4 linked regions of the Homo sapiens genome follow. The protein of the gene in region 4 interacts with the protein of the main gene of each other region in a pairwise test. Each region holds a gene or a part of one and is shown on either strand. Other genes may lie near its edges. The genes, in order: UBE2W, ZNF175, TULP3 and PSTPIP1.

What was found.
Region 1: the proteins of PSTPIP1 (region 4) and UBE2W interact in binary tests that used the Homo sapiens proteins (3 or more experiments, as listed by UniProt).
Region 2: the proteins of PSTPIP1 (region 4) and ZNF175 interact in binary tests that used the Homo sapiens proteins (3 or more experiments, as listed by UniProt).
Region 3: the proteins of PSTPIP1 (region 4) and TULP3 interact in binary tests that used the Homo sapiens proteins (3 or more experiments, as listed by UniProt).

The regions. Positions count from the first base shown.
Region 1 is NC_000008.11:73,819,640-73,827,439, forward strand, and holds part of UBE2W (ubiquitin-conjugating enzyme E2 W), read right to left. Parts: intron 5,611-7,800; coding exon 5,508-5,610; intron 1-5,507. UniProt on the Homo sapiens protein: Accepts ubiquitin from the E1 complex and catalyzes its covalent attachment to other proteins.
Region 2 is NC_000019.10:51,580,899-51,588,698, reverse strand, and holds part of ZNF175 (zinc finger protein 175), read right to left. Parts: intron 7,309-7,800; coding exon 7,182-7,308; intron 6,913-7,181; coding exon 6,817-6,912; intron 2,073-6,816; coding exon 232-2,072; 3' UTR 1-231.
Region 3 is NC_000012.12:2,914,499-2,922,298, reverse strand, and holds part of TULP3 (tubby-related protein 3), read right to left. Parts: intron 1,537-7,800; coding exon 1,377-1,536; intron 38-1,376; coding exon 1-37. UniProt on the Homo sapiens protein: Negative regulator of the Shh signaling transduction pathway: recruited to primary cilia via association with the IFT complex A (IFT-A) and is required for recruitment of G protein-coupled receptor GPR161 to cilia, a promoter of PKA-dependent basal repression machinery in Shh signaling.
Region 4 is NC_000015.10:77,025,651-77,033,450, reverse strand, and holds part of PSTPIP1 (proline-serine-threonine phosphatase-interacting protein 1), read right to left. Parts: intron 7,336-7,800; coding exon of another isoform or gene 7,279-7,335; intron 5,652-7,278; exon of another isoform or gene 5,600-5,651; coding exon 5,537-5,599; intron 4,898-5,536; coding exon 4,799-4,897; intron 3,923-4,798; coding exon 3,877-3,922; intron 2,950-3,876; coding exon 2,870-2,949; intron 2,272-2,869; coding exon 2,173-2,271; intron 1,154-2,172; coding exon 1,057-1,153; coding exon of another isoform or gene 1,023-1,056; intron 590-1,022; coding exon 499-589; intron 1-498. UniProt on the Homo sapiens protein: Involved in regulation of the actin cytoskeleton. May regulate WAS actin-bundling activity. Bridges the interaction between ABL1 and PTPN18 leading to ABL1 dephosphorylation.

The sequences.
Region 1 (7,800 bases), on a different chromosome or scaffold from region 4:
GCAGTGATGAAAAGATGCCTCATCTCTGTTTCCATATTAACAGACAAATTGTTTGTTGTTATTCTTTCTTTTAAGGCAAATGACTGAGCCAAACATATTTTAGAGAGGTAACTTTTTCATTATAAGGCAGGACACAACATGAGACATAAAATATAACTGGCAGGAAGAAAAACACAACAAACCATAATGGTGTGTGACAGTCTTACTGATCTCATTTACAGGTACAAAAGCAGTAATTTCACAATGAGATTCATCTATTCTAGAAATATTTTCCAAATTCTACTCTTGTAACTAGTGATAAACTCAGTACTGTTCATTGCATAGAAAGATGAAAGACTTTTCTTTCTTTTTTTTATTAGAGATGGGGTTGCCCTACGTTGCCCAGGCTGGTCCCAAAACTCCTGGGCTGCCTTGGCCTCTCAAAGTGCTTGGATTACAGGCATGAGTACCATGCCCAGCCAGAAAGATGAAAGACTAATTTAGGTAACAAGTGCTAATGCTACAGAGTTTCATCAAATAAAATTTTGGGGGAATTTTACTGCCCTAGAGGACTGGTTCTAGCCACTTTCCCAGGGCAGTGGATCTCTGCAAAGTTTCAGTTATTGGAAAAATCTTGAAGTCTATAAGCACATCAAGCATTGATGTTTGACCCATTATAATTATGTTAAAACTATATAGATTATGTATAAATACATTTTAAAAAATTTTAACGTATTACTGGCCTCAGAGTAGTTCTGCCATTTTCCCAATCAATGGATATTAGAATATACAACCTCTATGCCATGTGAGGGACTACAGAATTAACTGATATTAAAAAGGAATCCTCACTGGGCGTGCCTATGATCCCAGTACTTTGACAGGCCGAGGCGAGCAGATCACTTTAGGACAGGAGTTCAAGACCAGCTGGACCAACATGGTGAAACCTTGTTTCTACCAAAAATACAAAAAAAAATAAGCCAGGCATGGTGGTGCATACCTGTAGTTGCAGCTACTCAGAGAGGCTGAGGTGGGAGAATGGTTTAAGCCCAGGAGGCAGAGGTTGCAGTGAGCAGAGATCACACCACTGCACTCCAGCCTGGGCAACAGAGCGAGACTCTGTCTCAAAAAAATAAAAAACAAACAAACAAACAAACAAACAAACAAAAAAACAAAATAAAAAAACCAAGCCAGGCATGGCGGCAGATGGCTGTAGTCCCTGCTACTCTGGAGGCTGAGGTGGAAGGATCACTTGAGCCCAGGAGTTGGAGGCTGCAGTGAGCTATGATTACACCACAGCATAGGTAGATGACAAAGGGAGACTCTGTCTCCGCACCCCCACCCCACCAAAAAGTAAATTAAAAAAGGAATCCTTATATTTCAAAAAGAGTGAGAATAACTGACCTAGAGCTTTCAAAGGTACCATTCATTCCACATATAATCTTTCACTTTCAGAGAGAAAATTACTACATAGATAAATAGGCATTTTTTCCACACCGGTACTCGCATCTAATTGGCAGTATGGCAAAGGAGGAAAGGAAAGACTTGGGTTTGGGTCTTGACTGTCCTATAAACTAGGTATTAAAACGTGAACAAGGCACTTCACTTCTACAAGTTTCAATTTCTTCACATATAAAATGAGGATGAATCTACCTCCCCTAACCACTTCATTAAAAGATGTTAGAAAACAAAATCAGAATGGAAGTTAAATTATGAAGTACTATATAGAAATATTACCATACAGAATGCATGCAGGTGCAGAAAAAGTTAAGTTTGGATGTGACTATACAGGGACTTGAATGCCAGGCTAAAAACTTGATTCCATAGGAAATAAACATTAAGAGGTTTTACTGTCAGGGGGTGAGGAATTCTGGGGATGGTGGAGTGAGACAGAGTGTGTGTGTGGTGGGGGGGTGGAGTGGGGTGTGGGAGTGTGTGTGTGGGGGGGGGGGGATGTGTGTGCATGTCCATGTGTGTGGTATGTAACCAGTGAGATAACTGTGCCTTCAAACAAATCTATTGGCACCGTGAAAGGATGTAGGAATTCAAAGAACTAAAGGCTACTGTAATGGTTCAAATAAAAGATAAAAACCTGGACTAGGCCAGGCATGGTGGCTCACACATGTAATCCCAGCACTTTGGGAGGCCAAGGAGGTGGGCTGATCGCTTGAGCCCAGGAGCTCGAGACTAGTCTGGGCAACATGGCAAGACCCCATCTCTACAAAAAATATAAAAATTAGCTGGGTGTGCCATCAGATGGCCAAATCATTATTTACTGGACCAGACCTTTTCAAAACTATCAAGCAGATAGTCAAGGCCTGTAAAGTGTGCCAAAGAAATAATCCCCTGCACTGCAGGCCATACATTTCAATCCCTCTATCTTTAACCTCCTTGTTAAGTTTGTCTCTTCCAGAATTGAAGCTGTAAAACTACAAATCGTTCTTCAAATGGAGCCCCAGACAGTCCATGACTAAAATCTACCACAGACCCCTGGACCGGCCTGCTAGCCCATGCTCCAATGTTAATGACATTGAAGGCACCCCTCCTGAGGAAATCTCAACTGCACAACCCCTACTACGTCCCAATTCAGCGGGAAGCAGTTAGAGTGGTTGTCGGCCAACCTCCCCAACAGCACTTGGGTTTTCCTGTTGAGAGGGGGCACTGAGAGACAGGACTAGCTGGATTTCCTAGGCCGACAAAGAATCCCTAAGCCTAGCTGGGAAGGTGACCGCTTCCACCTTTAAACACAGGGCTTGCAACTTAGCTCACACCTGACCAATCAGATAGTAAAGAGAGCTCACTAAAATGCTAATTAGGCAAAAACAGGAGGTAAAGAAATAGCCAATCATCTGTTGCCTGAGAGCACAGAGGGAGGGACAACGATCAGGAAATAAACCCAGACATTCGAGCTGGCAACAGCAACCCCCTTTGGGTCCCCTCCCTTTGTATGGGAGCTCTGTTTTCACTCTATTAAATCTTGCAACTGCAAAAAAAAAAAAAAAAAAAAAAAAAAAAAAAATTAGCTGGGTGTGGTGGCATGCACCTGTAGTCCCAGCTGCTTCGGAGGCTGATATGGTAGGATCACTTGAGCCCAGGTGGCAGCAGTTGCAGTGAGCCAAGATTGCACCACTGCACTCCAACCTGGGTGACAAAGCGAGACGCTGTCTCAAAAAAAACAAAACAAAAACAAACAAACAAAAAACCAGACTACAGCACTGACATTAAGAAAAGAATGGGCTACCTTTCAAATGTAGGAGGGAGGAGTGTGGAAAAGAGAAAAACTGAGCACAAAAATAGACAGGTGGACAGTAACCCAGGATAAAGAAAAACAAAATGTTCTTTGTTATTGGAAAGATCAAGTTTAGTTGTGTTAAATTTGAGATGTCTGGAGGTACTCAAGTATTTCAACAAGGGTGTGAAATTAAGCCTTAAAAAAAGAAGTGTTCCCAGAGCTGTAGATCTGGGAGTTAGCTGCTTAAGGTGACTGAAGGTGAAAGAAGAGTGAGAAGAGTAACACAGTGCTGAATAAAGAACCTGGATAACACCAATGTTAGAAGAACAGACAAATAAAATCAGGGAAGGAGGATAAAATGAATTTGAAATAGGACAATAGGGAGAATTTATTACAAATGCTGTAACTTACAGAAATATTAAAGAAGAAATTCAACATAATGTTTAAGTTTGATATTTGATTTAGAATTAAATATTAAGGAAAGAGTTTAGAGAACACATTTTTGACTTGGTTTCATGCTTACAGAAATATTATTTTCCTCTGGTGAAAAATCTGTAAGCTCCCAGAGTAAGCCTTCCCCCAATATCTCCCTAGTCAAAAGCTTTTGAATTGGTGTGAAATATTCTTCCTTCCCATACCATCATTGAACTTAGTTGAAGGTAGACAAATAGGCTGATGATGAAAACAGACTGAGATCCTGTTGTCTCCACACATTTACAGTCAGAAATGATGCTGGCCAGCCAGAAAGCAACAAAAGTGATGACAATCTTCTGGAGAGAAGATGTTTGTTCTTTTTATTATAGTCTACAAATGCTTATTGTAGACATCTAGAGGTCACAATAGCACATACCCTTTCACTTTAACTTTTATGAAAATGATAAAAATAAGTCCTAAAAGTCTTGGTAGTTTTCTGCTCATATGAAAATTTTAGAACTTAAGGAGTCAGTATCCATTTAAATCTATGCTTTAAAACAATTATCTCTTTACTTATAGCATGATACAATAACTGACTTTATCTCTTCTCTTACATAACTAAGAAAAGATTAAGCTGTGTTTGGTATATTGTTTAAAGTGACAATGAAATATGATTTTCCTCCAAATAGTACATTTCAGCACCCAACAAGCAAAATTTTCAGTATCTGGGAAATATTTCAGGTATTTGGTTGTATTTTCCAGAATAGCTCATTTGCTAGCAATACTAGAGAGAGCTGGCATCATGTCTTACCATTTTAGCCAACGGATCTCACAAGCCTCAAATTTTAAAAATGAAGTGCTTTGTTATAATTCTCTGAAGAATAAGTAATTATAGTAACTCATTTACTTATCTTACCAAGCCAGAAACCTGGAAGTCATCCTAGAGTCTTCCTTTCTCTAACCTGATTAATCATTTACTATAGTTAAATAGCTCTCAAAAAACATTTCTCTACCACCATTATCCCTTGTCTAAGTATTAAGCTATTAACTAAACTCACTGGGCATCAAATTATAATAATCAGACTTTGTGCTGATGTTTAGATATTTAACATCTGATGATGTACTCTGCCCTTCCTGTACTAAAAGGCTGCAAGGACAGCATGTCAATGCAAAATCATAGTACTCCTTCCAACAGAGAACTTTTCTCTTCACCATGTGATTCTACCATCTGACCTAGGAGAAGTGCCTCCAGTTATTCCAAAATGTCAACTTCTCCGATGGCCTAGAGCAGTGGTCCCCAATCTTTTTGACACAAGGGACCGGTGTGATGGAAGACAATTTTTCCATGGATGGGGTTGGGGATTGGATGATGGTTTTGGGATGGAACTGTTCCATCTCAGATCATCAGGCATTAGATTCTCATAAAGAGCGTGCTATCTAGATCCCTCACATGTGCAGTTCACAATAAGGCTCGTACTCCTATGAGAATCTAATGCCATCGCTGATCTGACAGGAGGCAGAGCTCAGGCAGTAATGCTGCTCACCTCCTGTGTGGCCCGACTCCTAACAGGCCATGGACCAGTACTAGTCCACAGCATGGGGGTTGGGGACCCCTGGCCTAGAGGCCTGGTTAGATTTCTATTCCCTTTTCTGTTAGCATTTATGGATAAGCAACAAATGAAACAATTTTAGAAGCAAAATGCAGTAAAGCCCTAATCCCAATAAAGTGTAATGTTCATATCTTGATTATATGACAAATAAGATAATGAAATAACAAATCCATCTACATACGTATAACTGATTTATATGTTTTTACTGAGTCAAACATCTCTGGCATTTAGCTATCTAAAAATACAAAAAAAAAAATTTAAAGCAAGGCAATTACCTGAGGAGAGTCAAAAGGATATCGACTACTAAATTTAAATAGAAGTTGAAATTTTTCCCCTTCATATAAGGTACCTGGTGCACCTTCCATGTCTACAATCCACCTAGAATAGAAAAGGCAAATTAAAAACTTAAGATAATAGAGACTGGGGTAAGGAGGAGAAAAGAGGACACCAAGTACTTCCTATACACTAAGCACTAGGACAAGAGTTGGTTATGTGTAACAGCACATGCCAGCCTCCCAATAACTCTCTTACTGTTAATTCTCATGACCTATCCCCTTCTCTGACACTCAGCGGTGAAATAACCAGATCAAGGTCAGACAGCTAGCAAAAGACAGAGCCAGGTCTAAAAAAGCAAACTAAATAAAACCCAAGGCCGGGTGTGGTGGCTCACACCTGTAATCCCAGAACTTTGGGAGGCCAAGACAGGCAGATCACGAGGTCAGGAGTTTAAGACCAGCCTGACCAACATGGTGAAACCGGTCTCTACTAAAAATACAAAAATTAGCCGGGCATGGTGGTGTGCACCTGTAATCCCAGCTACTCAGGAGGCTGAGGCAGGAGAATCGCTTGAACCCGGGAGGCAGAGGTTGCAGTGAGCCAAGATCATGCCACTGCACTCCAGCCTGGGCTACAGGGCAAGACTGTCTCAAAATAAACAAACAAACAGACCTCAAACTAAGGTGCACTGACACCAAAGCCTGTGCTCCTCCTAATTGATTTATACTACCTTATTTTTTCAAAGTACCATTTCTACAATGCTGATATTACGTATTCTATACATAACATCAAACAAAGCAACTGCCTCTGATTATTACTGGTGGAAGCCATGGAGAAATACGTATAGACAATGACCACAGAGAACCGTAGCTGTCAGACTTATTTTTTTCATCAACATCCTAGAGAAGATTAACAGGGCAAGGGGAGCTAAATTGACATCAGTCCACTTACTCTGATGATTAAGCAAGGCTTTGTGGTGACTTTCCTTTATCTCTCACTATGTTTCAATTGTTTAATAAAGCCCATTTCTATGCCATCTATGCAAGCCTTTGTTTTCATATATAACAATCATAAACATAAATGTGTTATTTACAGTTTATATACTATTCTTGTTATTTTCTTTAAGATGGGAAGAATAAGGGATAATGACAGCAAAGATAACAGGGCAGCATTAGAAGCAAAAGTGAATTGAAGTCATTAACAATGTGTTCCTAATTATAGCTCTGTCACTTATAATTCTTGTACACCTGGGCAATTCTCTTGAACTTTTCAGTTATTAAACTTTCTTGTATTTAAAATACAAGAAAACAAAAGGAAGATAGAAAATACAGTGTTGGGATTCTAGTCATCACCACGCATACTATGAACCTTGGATTATGTAAAATAATAAATGTACCTATTCTCTAAAAGAAATCAGCTACAGTATACAGACTCTTAAGAGCATGGCTATTCATTTTAAGAATGCACGCTGAGTACCATACATGGTAATAAAAGATACGACCACAGACCCAAGAGACAATATTTTATAGTGAAATTAGACAGTTATAACTGAAGTTATACTGAAGTCGCAGTTATAGTTAATCTTAACTCATTGTGTGAACAAGTTATGTTATCTCTCCAGTTTTAACTACCTCAATAATAAAACAGAAGATAATCACCTCATAGTGTTGTTGGAAAGATAAATGACCCTACATACGTAAAAAACCTAGCACATTCCTGACTCAGTCAATACATGGTAAATTAAATGCAATGCAAAAGCTGCATACAAAACAAAAAACTATCTCTTTATATATTAGGTCCTTCTTAATCTTCGAAATTCCTTTCTTATTTTTCCACCCACATCCACTAGGCACAGTGATATTCCCAGGAAAAACGGTGGTCTTTCATTCTGTTTATATGGTAATTTTAGGACACATAACATAAATTAACATGTAACCTATACAAACAAGCACAGCTTTTAAAAATAAAGAGCTAAGCAAGTATCTCATCAATCCTTGTAATATCTGCATGACATGCAGATACTGACACGAGGTCAAAGGCAGCATAACTTTCAACATGGTGCGTGGTACTTTCTTTTTTTTTTGGTACAGAGTTTTGCTCTTGTTGCCCAGGCTGGAGTGCAATGGCGTGATCTCGGCTCACCGCAACCTCCGCCTCCTGGGTTCAAGTGATTCTCCTGCCTCAGCCTCCCAAGTAGCTGGGATTACAGGCATGAGCCACCACACCCGGCTAATTTTTTGTATTTTTGTAGAGAGGGTGTTTCTCCATGTTTTTCAGGCTGGTCTCGAACTC
Region 2 (7,800 bases), on a different chromosome or scaffold from region 4:
ATGAGGCCAGTACTCAGAAGGACATTTCTGCTTACTCTTTTCTCTGTAATTGCCCTCACTAAAATAAAGCATGACTTTTTTATCATGTGTTCACACATGCAGTGCATCCCTAGAGTTTTTCTGAAGCATGAATTCAATAACATATAATTAGACCTGATTCTGAGAAGATTTTCTCTTCTTCAAGAAACTCGGAGTATATTTCATTTATGAATATGCTGATGCACTAGGAATTCATTGCTTGGTAAAGCCTTTCACAGAATAACTGCATTTGTAAGATTTGTCTCTGGTATGAGTTGTTTGGTGTTTATTGAAGTTTGACCTGTTGTTGAAGGCCTTTCCACATTCAGAACACACATAAGGTCTTTCTCCCGTGTGAATTCGCTGATGCACCTTGAGTTGTGGTTTCTTACTGAACGATTTCCCACAGTCAAGGCATTCATAGGGTTTCTCTCCCATGTGAGTTCTTTGATGGGTAATCAACTCTGATTTCTGGACAAAAGCCTTCCCACATTTGTAACAGACAAAAGGCCTCTCTCTAGTGTGAGTTATTTGATGTTTATGGAAATTTGACCTGCCGTTGAAGGCCTTCCCACATTCAGTGCACACATAGGGTTTCTCACCCGTGTGAATTCGCTGATGCTCTTTGAATTGAGACTTAGAAGTGAAGGCTTTCCCACATTCACTGCATTTGTAAGGCTTCTCTCCGGTGTGAATTCTCTGATGCATGCTGAGTATTGACTTCTGGTTGAAGGCTTTCCCGCATTCACTGCATACATGGTGTCTTTCTCCAGTATGAATTTTCTGGTGTATATTCAGGTGTGACTTTTGGGTGAAGGTTTTTCCACAGTCACTGCATTCATAAGGTTTCTCCCCTGTATGAATTCGATGATGTATATCAAGCTGTGACTTGGAAATGAAGGATTTCCCACAGTTGTGGCACTGATAAGGTTTTTCTCCTGTGTGGCTTCTTTGATGGACAATCAGGTGTGCCTTCTGGATGAAGGCCTGCCCGCATTCGATACACACATAGGACTTCTGCCCTGAGTGGATTCTCTGGTGCAAGCTGAGTGTTGACTTCTGGGTAAAGGCTTTCCCACATTCACTGCATGCATACTGTCTCTCACCAGTATGAATTTTCTGATGTATAATGAGGGTTGAGTTTTGGGAGAAGCCTTTGCCACATTCACTGCATTCATAGAGTTTTTCTCTACTGTGAGTTCTCTGATGTCTGAAGAGAGATAACATCTGGAAAAAGGCTTTTCCACAGTCATGGCATTTATAGGGCTTCTTTCTAGTGTGTGTTTTCTGGTGCGTAAGCAATTCTGATCTCTGAATAAAGACCTTCCCACATTCCTTGCATATACAGGGTATATCACCTGTATGATCTGTCAGATATACACTGAGTTTTAGTTGTGGCATGAAGGCTTTTCCACATTTGCCACATTCATGGAGGTTTCCTACACTATGAATTCTCTGTTGGGCAAAGAGGTGTGACTTCTGGGTGAAGCTCCCCCCACATTCAGAACATCCATCTGGTTTCTTCTGAGTATGAATTTGATGTTGCTTGAGTGACTGTTTATGGCCACAGACTTTTCTACACTGGTTACCTTTGCAAAATGTCTCTCCTGTATGAATATTCTTGCTGCAGGCATCAGAAGAGCTATGGCTGAATAGCTGACCAGACCCAACAACGTCATCAAGCTGTTCTGTGTCATTGCTTTCATTCTGACCGTTCACTTCTAGGTTCAGCTTCAAACTTTCTGTAAATAAGCAACATTTCTGAGGTTGTTTCTGTGAAGAAGCAAGGTGGGGCCTCGTGCGAATCATTTTCCCAGGGTCCTTATATTCACAATTGCTTTCTGTGTTCAATGTTTTCTTGTTGAAGAAAGCACTGTGACTCATGGGTTGAATTTGATTTTGCTCATCTTTCTTTGTGCGGTCAGCATCCAGCCTCAGTTCTTCTAAAATGGAACACCATGAACCATCTCTTGTGAACTCACCTACCATATCCTTTTGAAATGAAGCTTTCTTAGAAATCTCCTTTTGTGGGATTTCAAGCCCAAACTCCCTTTCTAAAAGGAGAAAGAGAAGATGAAATAGACACAATGAACAAGAAAGAGGAGAAACTGCATGAAGCTGATTGACACAGAACACAAGGAAATTGCTGAGTCATGTAATAATGCTGCTAATGATGCTGACAATGAGCAGAAACACAGAGCCCTTATTACATGATGAGCATTTATCTACATAGCACTTAGCATGTGCCAGGCAGTGGCCTACATGGTGCACACATACTCATTTAATCTGCATAATAACCTCAGGAGGTAGCGATGATGGGTGTTCCTGTTTTACAAAGAAAAGGAAGCACATAATGGTTATGTAATTGGCCAAGATCACTTTGCTAATCTGTGGGGATTAGATTTCAACAACCTGAGGACACTTATGCAAGTGGTCTAGACACCCAGATCTAGTAGGATGAGTAGGATAAAACAGACAAGTGTTGCAGGGCAACATGTGTGGGCAGCCAAGGCTTGAAGGAGGGGGCTCAGTGTGTAGGTCTTCATTAACTTTCAGAGATGAATCCTCACCAATCTGCCTGCTTTATCTTACTTGTTAGAAACAATGCCAAGTCCATCAGCCCTGTATATCCTTCTGAAAACTATTAAAGCTTCACCTATCTTGACATGGCCAACCAGTGAAAGAATGACTATGCCTCAACTCTCCTATGCCTCAACTCTCCATGAAGCTACAATTTTTTTTTCTTGAACTTAGGAATATACCCATATCCCCAGAAATATATTCTAAAAGACTGGACAAGCAAGCTGTTCCCCAGAATTTGTTTCACCCTTGTTCCATTGAAATTAATTGTTCTTTGTTAGAACTTTTGGCTTTATGCTATCAAATATGCCTTTTTTAGTTTAGTTTTTTGTTTTGTTTTGTTTTTTTGCCAAGAATAAGAGTCCCTGATCATCCTGTGCACTTTACTAGTATACTGCACAAAACACAGCAGGTTCTCAATAAAAATAATAGTTACTAAATTTTACTATTACTTTTTCTACCAGATTTTAATACTGAGTATGAACATCACATGTAGTTTCTTTTCGCTTTCAGTCACTTAAACTGTATCCCAGACTCTTGTCCTATCAAAAAAACTCAATCATCTTTCATTCTTTTTTTAAAAAAAGGACACTTTTAATCTTTATTGTTAACTTTTTCTTATTGTAGCAAAAGTGCATAATATTACATTTACCATCTTGCCCATTTTGTATTGTACAGTTCAGTAGTGCTACCTGTATTCACCCTGTTGTGCAATGGATCTCCAAAACTTTTACATCTTGCAAAACTGAAATGCTGTATCCATTAAACAATTTCCCTTTTCCCCCATCCCTCATTCTCTGGCAGCCACAATCTTATTCTGTCTCTATGAATTGACTACTTAAAGTACCTCATACAGGTAGAATGATACATTTGGATTTTTTGTGTCTGGCTTATTCACTTAGCATCATGATAAGATTCATCCGCACTGCAACATGTTTCATAATTCCTCTTCCTTTTTAAGGCTGAATAATATTTCATTGTATGTATAGACCACATTTTGTTTACCAATTCATTGGTCAATGGACAATTCCACTTTTTGGATATTGTGAATAGTGCTGCTATGAACAAGAGTGTACAAACAGCTGTTTGGGTCCTTGCTTTCAATTCTTGTGGGTATCTACCCAGAAGTGGAGTTGCTGGATCATATGGTAATTTTATGTTTAATTTTTGAGAAATCATCATCCTGTTTTCCATAGGACTACACCATTTTACATTCCCACTAGTAATACACAAGGATTCCAGTTTCTCTATATCCTTGCCAACACTTGTTATTCTGTTTTTTTAATTGTAGCCATTCTAATGGATGTAAAGGGATATCACCCAGTGGTTTTGATTTGCATTTCCCACATAATTAGTGAAGTTGAGCATTTTTTCCTATTATTGGCCACTTGTATATCATCTTTGAAGACATGTCTATTCACATCCTTTTCCCACTTATTAAAATAGGTTGTTTTCTATTTCATTTTTCACTCTTAAATAGCAATTTTACCCATATACAGGTGGTCATTTATTCTGGCAATCTTCCACTGTGTCCCCAGGCAGCGATCTGAAACATTTTTAACTTCTCACTTTATTCAGGTCATAAAAATCTTGCTGAACCTGGTAACACTTAAATTACTGCCCAAAATGTTCAATGTAAACTATCAGAACTGTACTGAAAAGCTTTTCCACAACTCTCCAACACAGCCTAACAATGTCGATTGCAAAAAAGAAGTCCAATTTATTCTCAAATCCAAGCACACTCTCATGTCCTCTATTCCCATTAAGCTTGCTTCATCTGCTTCTTTGTTTCAATTCAAAATGGCTTCTTGAACCAGTTATAGGTACTATGCCCTTAAAATTAATTCCCAATGTCACTCCACCTCTAGGCTGACATCATTTTTCTGAACTTCACCAGCATTTGCTATCCATGCTTCCCATGTTGATACACTTACTTTTTGAGTAGCCTTCCATGAAATAGACATGATTGATGCACAAAGGCTAATACTTTTAACATTTAATGCCATTGTCCTCTCCATCCAAATACAATCTCCGTTCTTTTGAATTTATCTCAGCAAATATTTAAAGCATCCTTTTAAAATACTGTGAAATATTCTTTTCTGCCCATTTTCAGAAAATCAGTAATTTCTGTATCCTAAATACAAAAATCCTAATCCTATATCTTAAATACAATGGTTTCCTCATGCTAAACATTGATATAATGAAGATTAAGAAAGTACAAAGTAATCAGCAGAGTGTATGCAAAGTGAATCATTCTATGGAGTAGACATTAAACAACATACAAAAACAATGGAGCAGAGCATGAGTGATGAAAACTATTCAGGTATATTTTTAAATTGGAAATATGTGGCCATGAGGACAATATCACTGAAAAGAATTTGTTAATCCTACACAGTAGGAAATAGAACTGCCTGTTTTTATCATATCTACTGAGGAAAAAAGAAACAAAATAGCCATGTTTGGGGTCATAAAATCTGTCAGTATCTTGACTAAACTCAAAAACCTGAAATCAACATATCTCACTGGGAACAAAATTGTCTAAATATGAGAAAATGGGGATCTAGTTTGTTGTAATACCACTGGGATTAAGAAAAAGGGTCACTTTTTTCTTAATTAAAACAAGAAAAACTGGTAAGAATTCCAAAGTAATAAATTAAATTAGAGGACTGTGTTTCTGAGCCCAGAAACAGAAAAATCTCACAAAATTTATCAGGTGAGAATTCCTTATTTGGATGATGATGATTCCAATTTCTGATCTCCCAAAATTAAGGAAGTGAGTCATCTCATGGGAACTGTCCTCCGTGGAGCTAAGTAAGGTAGCAGAACACAGTTTAAGCACAGGGACTAGAGGTACTGATATATAAATCATTAGAATAAAAATATGAGGACTAAGAGTTCAGAATGGATGGGTCCTTTAAGTCAATTCCTGTGGGAAAAGATGCCCATAGCCGGGCACGGTGGCTCACGCCTGTAATCTCAGCACTTTGGGAGGCCAAGCCAGGCGGAACACCTGAGGTCGGGAGTTCGAGACCAGCCTGACCAACAAGGAGAAACCCCGTCTCTACTAGAAATACAAAATTAGCCGGGCATGGTGGTGCATGCCTGTAATCACAGCTACTTGGGAGGCTGAGGCAGGAGAATCACTCAAACCTGGGAGGCGGAGGTTGCGGTGAGCCAAGATCGTGCCATTGCACTCCAGCCTGGGCAACAAGAGTGAAACTCTGCCTCAAAAAAAAGAAAAGATGCCCATATGGAAGAACAGGGCCCCAAGCTAGAGGTGCCACAACTGGGAGGAAAAGAAGACAGCAGATCCAGCAAAGAAAAGAAAATAAATAAAATTAGGGGCAAAAAAACTGGAAAAAAAAGGCAGAAAACTCCATGGACGTAAAGAGATAAGCGGTAAGAAAATGCAACAAACAAATGAAAAAGCCAATCAGATAACAGATAAGATGAGAGGCTCTCACCATTCAGTTATTAGAAAAATAACACTTAAGCAATGAAACAGGCTGGGTGCGGTGGCTCACGCCTATAATTCCAGCACTTTGGGAGGCCGAGGTGGGCAGATCACAAGGTCAGGAGATCGAGACCATCCTGGCTAACAGGGTGAAACCCTGTCTCTACTAAAAATACAAAAAATTAGCCGAGTGTGGTGGCGGGTGCCTGTAGTCCCAGCTACTCGGGAGGCTGAGGCAGGAGAATCACTTGAACCCAGGAGGCAGAGGTTGCAGTAAGCCAAGATCGTGCCACTGCACCCTAGCCTAGGTGACAGAGTGAGACTCTGTCTCAAAAAAACCAAAACCAAAAACAAAAAAAAATGAAACAGCCCTTTCACCTATCAGTAGGGCTATAAATTCACCAATTTTGTTAATGCCAAGTGTTAGCAAGCAAGATGTGCAAATGCAAATCCTTGTGCACTGCACATGGGGAGTGTGAACTGGTGCAGCCCATCAGAAGAGCAATATGGTTGATTTAGTCAAGTATACTTATCTCCAGGACCAGGCAATCCCATTCCTGAGTATTCACCAATGGAAAATTCTTAAGGCAGCCCCTATAGGACATTTAACATTTATAGCACATTTACAGTGTTTGATGGGAAACTGGGAGTAGGAGGCAATCTACGGGCCATCACTGGGGGAATGGAGGGAATAGAAAAGTATGGTAGACTGGTAATGGTTCCCTGCAAAGATATCTACATTTGCCCGGGTACAACTTACTCACCTTGACACCTCTGATGTGAGACTTCAGCCTCCTCCACACGCGGCTCCTTTTCTTTTAGCATTCTGAAGATGACCTCTGGGTTGGGAATGTGATACCCTGTTAATTAGAAAGGATACTGGATTTGGGTGTAGCTTCTTCAGTTTTAGAGGCCATTCAATGAAGCTTTACACTGGCTCATTAGAAAAGTCAACATTTTCCACTGGGCACAAAATAATACTAGAAGGTGCCCAAAAGAAACAAACAATCCAGGACAAACCGATAAAAGAGTCATGACATACTTTGATATCCCACTGCGTTCTGCAATGAGGAGGAAGGAAATCTCCTCAACAGGATCCAGCCAAGATTCCCAGGTCAGTTGTGCTCACCCACTGCGAAGAGATGGCTATAGAGCTCCAGCATCACATCCCGGTACAGGCATCTCTGGGCAGGGTCCAGTTGCTGCCACTCCTCCCTGCTGAAGTCCACGGTCACGTCCTCAAATGACACTGATGCCTGTAACAGTGTACCCCAGCTCACTGTGAATTAGGTCATCATTGGCGAGTGGGGATGGCACATATAGGAGGAACATGCTTTTAATGATTTTCACCACGATCCATCACAGAGGCTTCCCACCAAACACCTATTTCACATTTTTAGGGATTTAAAAAAAAATAAGAGAAATATCCTCCATCCACTGTACACCTACATTCATTCATTCATTTTTTTTTTTCAAAAATGAGGCCAGAAATGGGTTCCCTCTAAGTCCTTTAGCTAATTTAGGAATAACCAGCATGATGTTGACGAAGCAACTACATGTGAGGCTGTAGTTGAGCTGGGTTCTGGTGCTCAACACAGAATTACATAAGCTTCTACTCTTGCAGCAACTCAGAGACTTGGAAGACATGTAAATACAAAAGCTCAACTACAGGGTTAAAAAGGGAACATGGTAGAAATATATGCAGAGGACACTGTTGGGGAAGGGCAAATTAGGGAAAGGCAAATTCT
Region 3 (7,800 bases), on a different chromosome or scaffold from region 4:
TCGTCTGGTTTCAGGACAGCAGCTGGACCATCAATACCTAAGGGCCAAAATAAAATGAATTTTAAAAAAGGAGCAAAGTATTATTCACTAGTTGGGTAGATTTGGCATATGTGATCAGAATTAAGAACTACCAAATCATTTTATCTGCCCTCCTTTCTTAACATCCATAAGAACATTTGTTAAGAGAGAAGGTCAGAACTGGTGTTCTTTTTTTCTGAGACAGGATCTCACTCTGTCACCCAGGCTGGAGAGCAGTGGTGTAATCACAGCTCACTGTAGCCTCGACTTCCTAGGCTCAAACGATCCTCCCACTTCAGTCCCCCGAGTAGCTGGGACTACAGGTGTGTGCTACTACACCTGGCTAATTGTTAATTTTTTTGTAGAGATGGAGTCTTGTTATGTTGCCCAGGCTAGTCTCAAACACCTGGCCTTAAGTGATCTGCCTTTCTGGCCTCCCAAAGTGCTGGGATCACAGGTATAAGCCACCACGCCCAGCCTGGTGTTCATTTTATTAACATGCTCTGTTACTAAAGTCATATGTACTTGTACTTCAGTAACTGAAGTAATATGTACTTCAGAAACTTAAGAATGAGACCAAGAAAACAAAGTAGGTCCTCCATAGTACAGATCCTGTACAAGCCAATAGCTCCAGTGGCTTGATTTAGAGGCACTTACAATCTTATTCTTCCTCCGCCCCTCCCCATCTCAGATGATCCTTTCAACTATCTGTTGGAAGAATGGACGCTCTCTACCTATTCCCGGCTTCATGATTCACCTCTGCCACGATTTAACAATCAAGAGCTCCTCAAATAGGTCATTCTAAACTCATTCATCTGGCATCTAGAAAACAACAGTTCTTGCCGGGCATGGTGGCTCAAGCCTGTAATCCCAGCACTTTGGGAGGCCAAGGCGGGTGGATCACCTGGGTCAGGAGTTCGAGACAAGCCTGGCCAACATAGTAAAACCCCGTCTCTACTAAAAGTATAAAAAAATTAGCCGGGCATGGTGGCAGGCGCCTGTAAACCCAGCTACTCGGGAAGTTGAGGCAGGAGAATCACTTGAACCTGGGAGGAGGAGGTTGGCAGTGAGCCAAGATCGCGCCATTGCACTCCAGCCTGGGCGACAAAAGCAAAACTCCGTCTCAAAAAAAAGAAAACAACAGTTCTAAAATGGACGCAAACCTTAAGGCATCTTCCACTGATTATATCATTGCTTTTATTCTCCTCAAAGACCCCAAATGTGATTATAAAGATTTATGAAGGTACCTAGTAATGGTGCTAATAATATTGTCCCTTTGGTCCGTCTGACAATCCTCGTGCCTTCTAGGTTTGTGAAAATTGTACCCCACTAGGAAGTGATGCTGCCTAAATACACACCATGTAAGATGACATTGCTGTGGGGAGTATGACAGTTCACCAAGGGAGTCTGCTCATCACTGGCCCTTGGCTTTGCCCGACGTAGCCTGGCTTCTGGATTGGGCTGCACCATAAATGGCTCAAGGCGCTTTTTCCTTTGCCTCTTCTCAAGTAGTAGCCTCTGGGAAAAAAGCGATATGACAGCCAGCAAGGAGAGTTTTGACATGACCTAACCATTTCCAACATGCCCAGTTTGTTTTTCACTGATCCTCACAAAACATCTTGTAAATTATTTTTTCCCCATTTAAGAAATGGGAAAACTGAGGCACAGAGAGGAGTAAGGATTCAATCATTTCATTTAACAAATACTTTTGAACACCTAACACCTATAAAGATCTATTTAAAATCAGATGATGCTTTTTTTTTTCTTTTTTTTGAGACAGAGTCTCACTCAGTTGCCCAGGCTGAGTGCAGTGGCACCATCACAGCTCACTGCAGCCTTGACCTCCAAGGCACGCCCAATCCTTCTGCCTCAGCCTCCTGAAGAGCTGGGACTACAGGTGTGTGCTACCATGCCCAGCTATTTTTTGTATTTTTGTAGAGACAGGGTTTCCCGACATTGCCCAGGCTGGTCTCAAACTCCTGAGCTCAAGCAGTCTGCTTGCCTTGGCCTCCCAAAGTGTTGGGATTACAGGCGTGAGCCACTGCACCTGTCCCACACAGTGCATTTGTAACCAAGTCTACTAAAGATGTATGGGAATCATCATAGCATTATCAAATGTGACCACAAGCTCAAAACATACAAACACACATGCACGGAGGACAGATGGAGGAACACAGCAAGGGTGGTTTCTTCAGGTGGCAGACTATGGCATGATTGTTTTCTCTTTTCTAGTCTTTTTTTTTTTTTAAGTTTTCTTACTTTTGTAAATGGAAGAAAAAAACTTTATTATTCTCTAAAACTCAAATTATTTCCATGTTCTAATTAGTCAAAGGGCAGTAAGTTTGGCATTCTTGTTTATCTTATATAATTAGAAATCAAATTTGGATCAAGGGTGAGAAGAAAAAAATGGCAGTTGGAACATATCAAATAGAAAGCAGTCAACTCTATGAATAAAAGCAAGATAAAGACTATGGTAGCAAGAAAAGTCAGGAAACAAGCATGACAGACTATGAGAAAAAAAAACCAATGAAATGGAAAGGAAGGTACTAGCACATAGTACTAGTACCTTTTGGCAAATAAGGGTTTATAATATATAGAAATTATTATTGATCTGGGATAACTCAGAGTAGGAAAAATGTTAAGCCCCATGCTAAAAAATAAAGACATGATTAAAAAACAAATATATTATAACCCACTTACTACTGTTTTTCAGGCAAAAGAAGCCATCTGTTTACTTTTTTCCATCGATACTGTTTTAGAAAAGTGCCTCCAGGAAGAAGAGTCACTCCAAGGGGTGAGACTATCAAAAAAGGAAGTGTGTTTTTCCTGAACTGGGCTGATGAGAGCACACTGATTAATTCAATAGCTTGCATATAGAGGGAAAAGATTGGGGAGTTAAGATAACGTGCCAATACAGAATATACCATCAAGAATGAATAGGTGTTAGAGCAAGGACTAAGTTGTTTGGAGATTATTTTGAGATTTCATGAATTACCATGAATAGAAGGACATTAACCCAGGAACACTAAATACACAGGAGGCTATAATGACTTCCACCAAACAGAATTGGCCACTGAGATTCTTCTAGCAGCCGGGCGCAGTGGCTCACGCCTGTAATCCCAACACTTTGGGAGGCAGAGTCAGGTGGATCACTTGAGGTCAGGAGTTTGAGACCACCCTGGCCAACATGGTGAAACCCCGTCTCTATGAAAAATACAAAAATTGGCCTGCGTCATGGCGCATGCCTGTAATCCCAGCTACTCAGGAGGCTGAGGCAGGAGAATCACTTGAACCCAGGAGGTAGAGGTTGTGGTGAGCTGAGATCATGCCACTACACTCCAGCCTGGGTGACAGAGCAAGACTCGAGACTCTGTCTCAAAAAAAAAAAAAATTCTTCTAGCAACCAAGAGGTCTTGTATAATGGATAAAAAGTAACTTGCTGGCCGGGCACAGTGGCTCATGCCTGTAATCCCAGCACTTTGGGAGGCTGAGGCGGACGGATCACCTGAGGTCGGGAGTTCAAAGCCAGCCTGACCAACATGGAGAAACCCCGTCTCTACTAAAAACACAAAAATTAGCCGGATGTGGCGGCGCATGCCTGTAATCCCAGCTACTCGGAGGCTGAGGCGGGAGAATCGCTTGAGCCTGGGAGGCGGAGGTTGCGGCGAGCTGAGATTATGCCCCTGCACTCCAGCCTGTGCAACAACAGCAAAACTCCATTTCAAAAAAAAAAGTAACTTGCCTGAAAAGGTGGTAAATATGAAGTACTGAAATCATAAGAAACTGCCATATCTTATCTATGTGGCCACAGCTATTTCATCTCATACATAGTCTGTGAAATGATCGATGAAACAAAATCACATACTGTAGGCTGGGCGCGGTGGCTCACGCCTGTAATCCCAGCAGTTTGGGAGGTCGAGGTGGGCGGATTACCTGAGGTCAGGAGTTTGAGACCAGCCGGGCCAACATGGTGAAACCCCGTCTCTATTAAAAAATAAAATTAGCCAGGCGTGGTGGCAAGCGCCTGTAATCCCGGCTACTTGGGAGGCTGAGGCAGGAGAATCACTTGAACCTGGGAGGCAGAGGTTGCCGTGAGCCGAGATTGGACCACTACACTCCAGCCTGGGCGACAGAGCGAGACTGTCTCAAAACAAAAACAAAAACAAAAATGAATGCTGTAGCTATTTTTTGAGACGGAGTTTCACTCTTGCTGCCCAGGCTGGAGTGCAATGGTGCAACCTCAACTCACTTGCAATCTCTGCCTCCTGGGTTCAAGCAATTCTCCTGACTCAGCCTCCGGAGTAGCTAGGATAACAGGCACCTGCCACCACACCCAGCTAATTTTTTTTGTATTTTTAGTAGAGATGGGGTTCACATGCAAGGAAAATATTTTCTTTTTTTTTTGAGACAGAGTCTTGCACTGTCACACAGGCTGGAGTGCAGTGGCGCGATCTCGGCTCACTGCAAGCTCCGCCTCCCGGGTTCACGCCATTCTCCTGCCTCAGCCTCCCGAGGAGCTGGGACTACAGGCGTCCGGCACCGCGCCCGGCTAATTTTTTGTATTTTTAGTAAAGATGAGGTTTCACCGTGTTGGCCAGGATGGTCTCGATCTCCTGACCTCATGATCCGCCCGCCTTGGCCTCCTAAAGTGCTGGGATTACAGGCATGAGCCACCGTACCTGGCCAAGGAAAATATTTTCTATAGAAAAGGAGTTTTCTGCTGTGGTCTAGAAAAGGGAGGCCAAAGAGCTAGAATTTGATAGGGTTATCAGGTTTGTCCAAGAAAGAGAAGTATCTTTTTTTTTTTTTGAGACAGAGTCTCGCTGTGTTGCCCAGGCTGGAGTGCAGTGGTGCGATCTCGGCTCACTGCAACCTCTGCCTCACGGGTTCATGCAATTTTCCTGCCTCAGCCTCCCGAGTAGCGGGGATTACAGGTGCACCCCACCATGCCCAGCTGATTTTTAAACTTTTAGTAGAGATGGAGTTTCACCATGTTGACCAGGCTGGTCTCAAACTCCTGACCTCATTCCCTCTGATTCCTTGCTCACCAATAAGCCTTCTAATTTGAAGTTTAACTTCTTAGGTATCGTATTCCCAGGAAAAGAGTATTATGAACAGTAGACATGAATACACACTGAAAGAGTAGAGCTCCCTTTATAAATTAATAACTTGGGGTTCTGGTTTTAAAACTTACTGGTGTGGGTTTAACTAGCGTGAATTTGTGCCAAAGGACCTGGTTATATCCAGTTCACTGACAAACTAAGCTCTCACTTGTTAAGGGGAGACTAGACCCCTGACCACAGTGTTCCTGCCAAGGTATCTGGGGAAGCCTCTCTCTATCTACTTACAGACAAATCAAACTCATTTAGACCAATGACTTAAGAAAAAAACAACTGTAGACTCAAACTGTAATCAGGGCCACAGCTACTATACCTCAGTATTGAATGATCTTACTACTGTCCAAGTTTACAAATAAGAAAAATACCATTAAACATATATGTGCAAGCTGCCATCTTGGTGAAAACCGTCATGCAGTTTGGATGGGGGAGGAGAGAAGTGCTACTTGTGTTTGAATGTAACAATGTCAATTCCTATTCCATCTATATTTTACTTCCCTGAAAACCTAAAAGTGCTTTAAACGAGGCTACATCAATGAAGGACTCATTACCAAGATAGAGTAAGTCAGGGAGCCAGGAAGAAAGCCAGAGCTGATGGTTAGATGCCCTAAATGCAATTAAAACACACTGCCTTCGTGATTTTAAGTGTCATATAAACTAAAACTTAATCACTTTTAAATTTCCTAATTATCTTGGGAATTGAACTGTAAAAGAATCTATCTTCCCAAGAATTTAGTGGTATGTCTTACTATCCTGCTAAAATATTGAATGGTGATGTCAAAATAAACAGTAAGAAATTAAAGGAGATCAGATAGGTGGAAATTTCCATGAAATAACTTTATCCAATAAAATAATAAAGCTCTGACCGGCGCAGTGGCTCATGCCTGTAATCCCAGCACTTTGGGAGGCTGAGGTGGGCCGATCTCTTGAGGTCAGGAATTCGAGGCCAACATGCCGGAAACCCCATCTCTACTAAAAATGCAAAAATTAGCTGGATGTGGTGGCACAAGCCTGTAAATCCAGCTACTTGGGAGGCTGAGGCAGGAGAATTGCTTGAACCCGGGAGGCAAAGGTTGCAGTGAGCCAAGATCGCGCCATTGCACTCCAGCCTGGGCAACAGAGCAACCATCTCAAAATAAATAAAACTTCATTTAAATTAATGATAGTTTAACTAATTCTCAATTTTCCTAGACAAGGAGTCACCCTAGAGGTGATGGGCTAAGGTTACACTATGACAGTTTTCCAACAGACTGACCAACCACAGAGTACAACCAGCATCAGGCTAGTTGTCTGCAGTCTATCAGTTTGTTTAAAAATCTCGGCCGGGCACGGTGGCTCACGCCTGTAATCGCAGCACTTTGGGAGGCTGAGGCGGGCAGATCACGAGGTCAAAGGATTGAAACCATCCTGGCCAACATGGTGAAATCCCATCTCTACTAAAAATTAAAAAAATTAGCTGGGCGTGGAGGCATGCGCCTGTAGTCCCAGCTACTCAGAAGGCTGAGGGAGGAGAATCGCTTGAACCTGGGAGGTGGAGGTTGCAGTGAGCCTGAGCTGAGATTGCACCACTGCACTCCAGCCTGGCGACAGAACGAGACTCTGTTTCAAAAAAAAAAAACAAAATAAAAAAACTAACTTAATCTCCCCGCCCACAAAGCAAGATCATAGGAAGGTAAGACTAAAATTTTTAAACTAGACTTCTTAAAATATCATTCAGTGCAGTGATGACCTCTCATCATACAAATAGATGAGCAACTTGGCTCAAAGGAACTATGTTGTACTTTAATCCATTTTCATCAGACGAAATAAATGTACTCTACCTAATATGCATCCATGTCAGAAATATCACAGCAAGAATCAGAAAATCCATTCTGGGCTGGGCGCAGTGGCTCACGCCTGTAATCCCAGCATTTTGGGAGGCCGAGATGGGTGGATCACTTGAGGCCAGGAGTTTGAAACCAGCCTGACAAACATGGCAAAACCCTGTCTCTACTAAAAATACAAAAAATTAGCCAGGCATGGTGGCGTCTGCCTGTAGTCCTAGCTACTCGAGAGGCTGAGGCATAAGAATCGCTTGAACCCGAGAGGCAGAGGTTGCAGTGAGCCAAGATCATGCCACTACACTCCAGCCTGGGCAACAGGGCTACACTCTTGTCTCAAAAAAAAGAAAAGAAAAGAAAATCCATTCTGCAGCTTGCTAAGGTGCCCACATACCCTGAAAACGAGTATCTTGCCAGGTATGGTGGCTCACACCTGTAATCCCAGCACTTTGGGAGACCAAGGTGGCTGGATCACTTGAGGCCAGGAGTTCAAGACCAGCCTAGCCAACATGGTGAAACTCCATCTCTACGAAAAATACAAAAATTAGCCAGGCGTGGTGGTGCACTCCTCTAATCCCAGCTACTCTGGAGGCTGAGGCACAAAAATCACGTGAATCTGGGAGGCAGAGGTTGCAGTGAGCCAAGATTGCGCCACTACACTCCAACCTGGGCAACAGAGAAAGACTTCTCCTCAAAAACAAGAAAGAGTATCCTAGTGAAACTGGTAAAAATAAAAGCAAGATATACTCAACAGGAAAGTATTTCGATAAATGGTGTTGGGAAAGCTGAATATCTGAATGAAGCTGAATCTCTGTTTCACGCTATACACAGCAATTAATTCAAAC
Region 4 (7,800 bases):
CCCCAACACTCAGGGCCCTGGCCTTAGAGAGTGTGAATGACTTGCCCAGGTCACACATTGAGGCCCAGCACTAGGACCTTGGCACTTGACTGCAGCCAGGCCGGGGAAGGAGCCCTGGAAAAGCCTGGAGAATTCTCCAGATGCCCCAGTCCTGCTCCAGCCAGACAGCGTTGCCACTGCAGCCTGACAGGGCACCAGGCTCACATGAGGCCCCAGGGACAAGGAAGCCAGCATAGGGGCCTCCCCAGAGCTCGGAGCACCTCCCCTAGTGAATAATTGGGGTGTGATTATTCTAGTGTCTGGGTCCCTTGGGCTGAGGGTTCCATAGGCTGAACTGAGCCTATCTTGTCTCCACAGAGTGCCCAGCACCTAAACTGGGCACCAGATACAGACACATAGTAGGTGCTCAGTGAACGAGGAAGGGCCAGGTGCAGAGGAGGGGCTCGACCCACTTCCTGGCCCAGCCTTAGGCCCTCCCTCCGTCTGTCGGGGCCTCACCTCTTTATCATGCCGCAGGACGGCTGTATGCCAGGGCTGCTGGTCAGCGGGGTGACCTCCCGATCGTAATAGTTCTGGTAGGGCACCGGAGCTGCAGACAGCAAGCCGTGAGCCCCAGGGCGGCCCCCAACACCCCATTCTGGCCCTGCCAGACTCAGCTGGGGCCCTACATTCCCAATCTGGCCCTGGCCCATCCTGGTGCCTGAGGAGGTGCCTGTCTTGCTCCCATGAGAGACCCCACCGTAGGTACCATCAAGACCTAATATTCTGGACCCGTGATCCAGTGGAACCAAACAGGCGGGGAGTGGGGGCCGTGGGAGCTCCTCACCTCAATCCCCATCCCCACCTCTTCCTCTGAGTGCCATCATGCCCTTAGCTTTGCCTGAGAGGAGGCAGCAGGCCTGGGACCCAACTCCCCACAACCCCTGCTAGGGCTTCTCTGCCCTGAAGGGAGCTGTGAGCTACCCCAGCCCGGTCCTGGCACTTGAGGCTCAGGGCCGGGCCTTCCCAGGGGCTCAATGCACCTAGAGGCTGCGCTGTCCGCAAGCCGGACCTCACCGGGGGGCTCTGTGCCCGTGCTCTTGGCCTGGATGAAACTGTCGATGTCGGCGTCTATGCTGCAGCCTTCCAGCGTCAGCCGCACTTCCTCGTAGAGCTGGGGCAGGAAAGAGCAGAGGCCGCAGCCCGATGCCCACTCTGCCCCTCTGTGGGCCTGAACTCTGACCAGCGGCCCCCACCCACCGGCCTCCTCACAGGCCATTGTGCGCGGCTCGGGGTCTTTGATCCTGAGGGGTCACGGCCCTGGCTGACAGCTTCCTGTTTCCTGAACACCTTCTGTGTGCAAGGCCCTGTGCAAGGGACTTAACTCACACCTGTCCTCTAAGGTAGACCCCACTTTTCCCATTGGATAGATGAGGAAACTCAGAGGAGAGTGACTTGCCCAAGGTCACAGCGAGAATGCAGCACAGCCAGGCCTTGGGGCTAGGAGAGTGGGTCCAGAGCTCGCCCTTCTACCTCAAGGAGGCGAGGAGGCAGCAGGGGGCTCGAGTCACTTGGGCAAAAACAACAAGAAAATCAACCCCCACAGCCCCGGACAGGAGCGTCAGGCAGGAAACACAGCAGGCAAGGGGGCCAGGGCTGCCCGGGAGAGCCGTGTGCTGGGCTGCATCCATCCACAGAGCTCAGGGACCCTGGCTGGGGGCCCTCTCTGCTGGGGAGGACCCACCCAGCAGGTTGGGCTCAGTAAGGGGAACCAGGACACCCTGGAGATGTGGGGAGCAGAGGAAGGACTGCGCCTCGGCTCCTGCAAGCACCAGGCCTAGAGCAGAGCAGCCACGGTCCTCCAGCTTCTGCCAACCTCTGACAGCTGTGTCCACCTCCCCTCCCATCCCCGGCAGAGGGGGCAGGTGCTCTGTGGCTCTGAGGCATAAGGAGGAAGTCAGGGGAACCACAGAGTCATCATCTTCCAGGCAGAGAAGCCATGGCCCTGTGTGGTACTGAGCTCCTGTCTTGGGGTTCTGGGGGCAAAGGCTGAGCTGCTGAGGCCTGAGACCCCTGGGGCCAGGCTTGGATCACAGAGGACCAGGTGCTTGTTGACCGGCTCAGATGGACCTGGGTGCTTTGCTGCCTAGAGGCTGCCCTACCTTACCCCACACCAAGGCCCTCAGCCCCCACCTCATCATCCTTGACACACTGCATGGAGAGCTGGTTGCTGTGCACCCACAGGGCGTTGCGGAGAATGGTCAGCCGGTCAAACTCTTGCAGCTGAAAGGCCTGGGGGCAGTGGGAGGGAGGTGAGCAGTGAGGAGGCGGCTGCAGGGCCCGGCCAGGCTGGGCCCCATTCACAGCTCAGCCGGAGCTGACCAGGCCAGCCCTCTCTGCTGGAAGCCCAGTCCAAAGGAGAGAGTGCCCTGGGGTCCCCATCCCGACTCCGGGCCAGCCCTGAGGCTGCAGGGAGGGAGGTGGAGATGCCCAGGGGGTCCCTGCCCCAGCCTCCCTTCAGGCTGCACCACACCGAGGCAGAAGGGTAGTGAGAGGGACCTCGGACGGGAGTCCTGAGCCCTGTTCCCCAGGCCCTGTCCATCGGCAGCACCCAGAGAGGCTGTGGGTTTAGTCCAAGTCCCAGTTTTGGCTTCAACAAAGAGGGTGGAAGAATGCCTGCCTGCAACGAAGGGGCCCAGGACTCAAGGCCAGGCGACAAGCAACAGGGCCAGGGCCCAGCACAGGCCTGTGAGCAGGAGGCTGAATAAACGAGTGAGTAACAGGTACCTTCCCCAACTGCCTCACTTGGGCCCCTTTAAGCAGCTGGAGTAGGGATGGGCGTCTCACACTTCCCAGCTGGGGAAAACGAGGCTCCACGTGGGCCACTCACCTCACAGGTGGTCCGGTGCTCCTGCTCCCACTCAGCCCGGACCTTCTCCAGCTGCGCAATGCTCTGCCTGTATACCCGCTCTGAAAGCGCAGGCAGCCTCAGGGAGGGCCCTGACACGAGCTCCTCCACCCCTGTACTCCAGCAGGTCCCATCCTGGATGCCTCCTCCCACTGGGAGCCCCGCCTCCCCCATGGGACCTGCCCTAGCAGATGGCGGGGCCTCATCTGAATGCCCGTCAGGGCCACCCACGCTGGTGCTGCTGCTGCTCCCCAACTGTGCTCTGAGCTGCCTGAGGGCTGGAGTGGAGCCTCATATATGCAAGTCCAGAGTATTGGCCTCTGGGCATCTCTGGGCGCCCCACCTCACTTTCCAGAGGGGAAACTGAGGTTCAGAGAAGGCAGCTGAGAGGGCGCTGGAGGAGGGGTGGAGTCCCACAGGCTTGGGTCACAACTTCTGTGCCCAGATCTCTGGAGGTCACCTGTCCCCCAGCCGAGGGAGTAGCTGAGTCCCAGTAAAGGCAGAGCAGAAGGGAGAGGCCTTCCCAGGGGAAGGGAGGAGGGTGGGTGCTGTGTCTGGTGGGTGGGGCACCAGCAGGGACAAGAGTGTTGGTAGGATTCGGGCATCAAGTGAAGGACAGAGGCCCAGAGAAGGCTATGTGCACAAGTCCTGGGCTCTGAAGCCCGATGGCCTGGGTTCAAATGCAGCTGTAACCTGGGGCAAGTACTGGACCTTTTAGTGCCTCTGTTTCCTCATCTGTTAAGAAAGGGAACAGTAACAGCAGCCACCTCGGAGGGCAGCTGTGAGGACTGAACACATGAAGCGCCAAGAAGGGCTGGCGAATGGGGGAACACAGCGTTTACTTTGACGGCACATATCTGGAATGAGAGCGCCGCGCCCATGATTGTGCAGCCAGGGGGAGTGTGTGTGTCCCCAGGGTGAGGAGGTGTGTGTGGGGAGTACCGCCCAGGCCTCCGCCCTGGTCGGACGGGGCAGCCAGGCCCACATACCTGCCTCGGTGGCCGAGTCCTTGCACTGCCTGGCTTTGTTCTGACTCTGAGGAAACAGAGGGGAAGCAGCGCTAAGCCCCTGCCCCAGGAGCCAGGGCCCACCCCAGCAGACCTGAAGTGACTGTCAAGCTTCCCCGGCCACCCTGGGGGGAACATTCAGGAGCCAACTATGGGCAGATGCCATCATCCACAAGCAACCTCCGCCCACAGAGGACCACAGGCTAGCTCCATGGAAAGAGAACGAAGACAGGAACCGAGCCCAGGAGGATGCCTGTGAAGAGTGAGACCACAACCCACAGGAGAGGTGCAACTACTGCTGAGCCCCCTGGCTGGGACTTGGGCTCTGGCCCCTGACTGACTGCCCCCAGCTCACCCTCAGGCCACTTCCCTCTCTGGGCCTCAGCCTTCCTGTCTGTGCAATGAGTGATGTGTTTCCTGGGCTCTGGGAGCTCTGATACCCCCACTCTGGCCTAGGGGCCACAGCATCAGGAGCATGGGCTCTAGACCACCTGAGTTGGGGGTCCCTTTTCTGCTGCTTCCTGGCTCTGAGACCTTAGACAAGTCACTTACTGTGAGCCTCAGTTTCCTCTCTGTGACATGGGCCTACTGAGCCCTTCTCCAAGGTTGTGTGAGGGTTGGCGTCTGCTCTCATCACCCTGTGGGCCTCAGTGGGCCTGCACCGAGGAATGGGTCCCTGAGTGCCGCCTGACGGTGGCAAAGGGGATCCAGCTGACCTGCCTGTCCATGGCCTGAGGTTCTCTCCAGGAAACCCATTTCACAGATGGGGAGATTGGGGGTCAGAGAGGGCTAAGCAGCATCCCCAGATGCAGATCTTGCCTGGGGGTGTCTACGGCACCCCTTCCTTGCCTCCCCCACTGCCCCCAGCCCTGGGCGACCCACACGGCCCAGCAGCCCAGCGCACCTTCTCCACCTGCTTCTGGTGGCCGTTGGCGCTAATGCGCTCGAAGGCCTGCTCCGCGTCGTCCGCGTCCCGGCACTTCTGCTCGTATGTCTTCTTGGACTGGGGGTGTGGAGGGGCGTGACTTGGGGGCTGCACAGCCCTGTTCTGTGGTCCCCGGGAGTGAGGCTCCCTTAGCCCAGCCTCCCTTTTTCCCTGGCGAGGGTTGCGGGTGGAGTGGGGGCATCCTCACCAGGGACAGGGATCTGGGGGTCCGGAAGGAGATAGAGAAGGCGTGGGGGCTGCTGGTAGTCCTGCTCTCAGGCCCTCCCCACTGAGGACAGCGCGGCCTGCCCCGGGCCCCGCCTCCTGGGCTGTGCTCTTCGGCGAGGGCACGCCCCTCGCCACGCCCCTCGCCACGCCGCGCCCTCTTAGGAGCCCCTCTCCCTTCCTGTCCAGCGTCTCGCAGGATCAAGCTCAGGGGTCCCTCCTCCCTCCACCCCTGGAGTCCCCAGCTGACTTCATCTGCCCTTCATTCACGAGCCCCACAAGGGAAGGGCCCGGGACCATCCCCACGGGGCCATAGCGCCCAGCACGGGCCCAAGCGCCCCGCAGGCTGGTGCGCCCAAGGCCGAGGTCCGAGGACCAAGGCTGAGGTCAGCCTGTTCCAAATGCCCTGCCCGGGGCCACAGCCCAGGATCGCACCCTGAGACCTGCGCTGCTCCTCGAGGGAAGGCCGCGGCCCCAGGCCCTGGCGCTCACCTCCATGGCCTTCTTGTAGAGCGACAGCTTGCTCTTCTGGACCCGGTCCATGACGGCCTCATACTGCAGGGGACACGAGGTTCTGAGCCGAGGGCCGCGGCCTCGGGAGGCTCCCCTAGGCCAAGAGGACGGAGTGTCCCTGGGATGAGGCGCAGCACCTCTCCTGGCTCTGGAGAGAGGGTGACAGGCTGCCCTCCCTCCCCCAGAGCCTGCTGCTTCACAGTGACCCTCACAATGGAAGGCCACAGAGAATCACAGGGCATGGGTGTGCCGTGAGGTCCTTGCTGCAGACCTTGGCCAGAGCTTCGTCTCCAGCTGGGGAGTTCCCACCCCAACACACGTGCGCACACAGTCGTTCATCCTGCATCCCTGAGCCTCTGCAGGCATCACAGTCGCTCACACGTGTGTGTACACTCTGGCACACACATACATGCAGAGTTCCACATTAACTCGGAGGCACACAGGCCCCATCCCTAGCTGCCCACACGCATGATCACAGGCATTCCTGTGCACACCCACAGATGCCACTCACAAGTACACACTCCCACAGTCACCCACACACAACCACAGGCCACATGCAGGCACAGTGGCCACTGGGCCCCTGTGCCGAGGTCTGGGGCCAAAGCCTCCCCTCACCTCCCAGGCTTCCTGTTCTGATAGAGAAGGCAAAACAGCCAGGACAGCGACTGGGTTATGAGGTAGGAGGAGAACTGAGCCAGTTTGTGCCTGGGGTCTCAGGGGAGGGGTTCTGTGCCAGCTGGGAGACCAGCGAGGCACAGGCACTCACACACACACAGCACAAAACACCCAAGTGCACAGGGCTGGACAAGGACACATGCTCACAGGCATATGCAGGGGAGCGTAGGCACGTGTGCACCATCCTGTAAGCACATGTCCTTGCTCTGTGGCACACGCACATACACACACAGGCTCAGACACACATGGCACACACTACAACACAGCGCTCTGCCTGCGGGGCCCTGGCCACTTGGAGAAAGAATGCTCTGTCCAAAACAGCCTTTGCAGCCAGTGCAGCTCCTCTGGCCACAGGAGGGCCCAAAATAGCAGGGCCGGGGTCCCTCCTTCCTGGCAGGTTCTCTGCAGGCTCTGCGGGCACGTCCCAGCTCAGAGAGGGTGCCTGCTCCGGCACCTCAAGCCTGGGCTGGCTTCTGGGGACCCCCTGTCTGCTCAGAACCCCACATTTAGAATCCTGAAAGCCCAGCTGGCAGATGGGCAGGTGGCACGGGCAGCCACGCTACATTTCTGCCAGCAGAGCTGCTAACCAGAGCTGGAGCCCTGTCTGTGGAGACTGAGGGGCGCATGGCTTGGGCTGAGCTCCCAGCACTTGGGAGGTAGACATATGTGTCCCATCCTGTGAGAGGGAAACTGAGGCACAGAGATGGGAAGTGGTATGGCCAGGACACCCAGGCCTAGCCTGGCCCCAGCCTCAGGTACAGCTTCTTCCCCTTCAAGGCTCAGTTGTGACTTTTCATTTTCAATTCTTTGGCCACTTCACAACGATCCTTCCTCCCCAGGCAAGAAGCGGATCTGTGTGCTGCCCTGCCACCCTGTGCAGGGCACCACCCTCATCACTAAGGCCCTGAGAGGCTCAGCCCCCATCCTCACAGGCCCAAGCCCAGCCTCCAGGCCAGTCTGCGTCCTGCCTGCCCTCCAGGGAACCTATATCCAACTTCAGCCCTGCAGCCTCCCTGACAAGCATCTGCCAGCCTCTGCTTACACACCTCCCATGATGGGGACTTCACTTCCATGCAGTCACTCTGTCTCGGGACAGCCATGCCCTACATATGGGTGAGAAGTACCTTTGGATGCTAAGCAATGCCATACAACTCTCCCACCCCAGTCTGTGTCTGACCCCTCAGCCTTGGGCAGTCCTGTGGGGTGACTGGCTGCAAGTCTGCCTTTTTCCAGGACAATCAGCCCTGATCCTTGGACTCAAGACCAGTTTCCAGTGACCCCCACAACTCAGACTGCCTCCTCTGGACACTGCCAAGTTGCCACAGACCCTCTAGAGTCTGCTGTAGTAGGATCCTCCTAGGCGTGAGGCAGCTCGACAGGAAGGACCTTCCATGGGGCTCTGGGACTAAGAGTTGGCCTTAGTGCCAGCGGCCAGGCCTCTGCCCTCCCTACCCACTTCAGATCACCCTCAAGCCCCAAAGCCTGGAGTGCTGTCCCACCACCACCCCTGCCGCCCTCCACTGGCTCTACCAGGAAGGTCAGCCCCCTACCCCCACAGCAACTGAGAG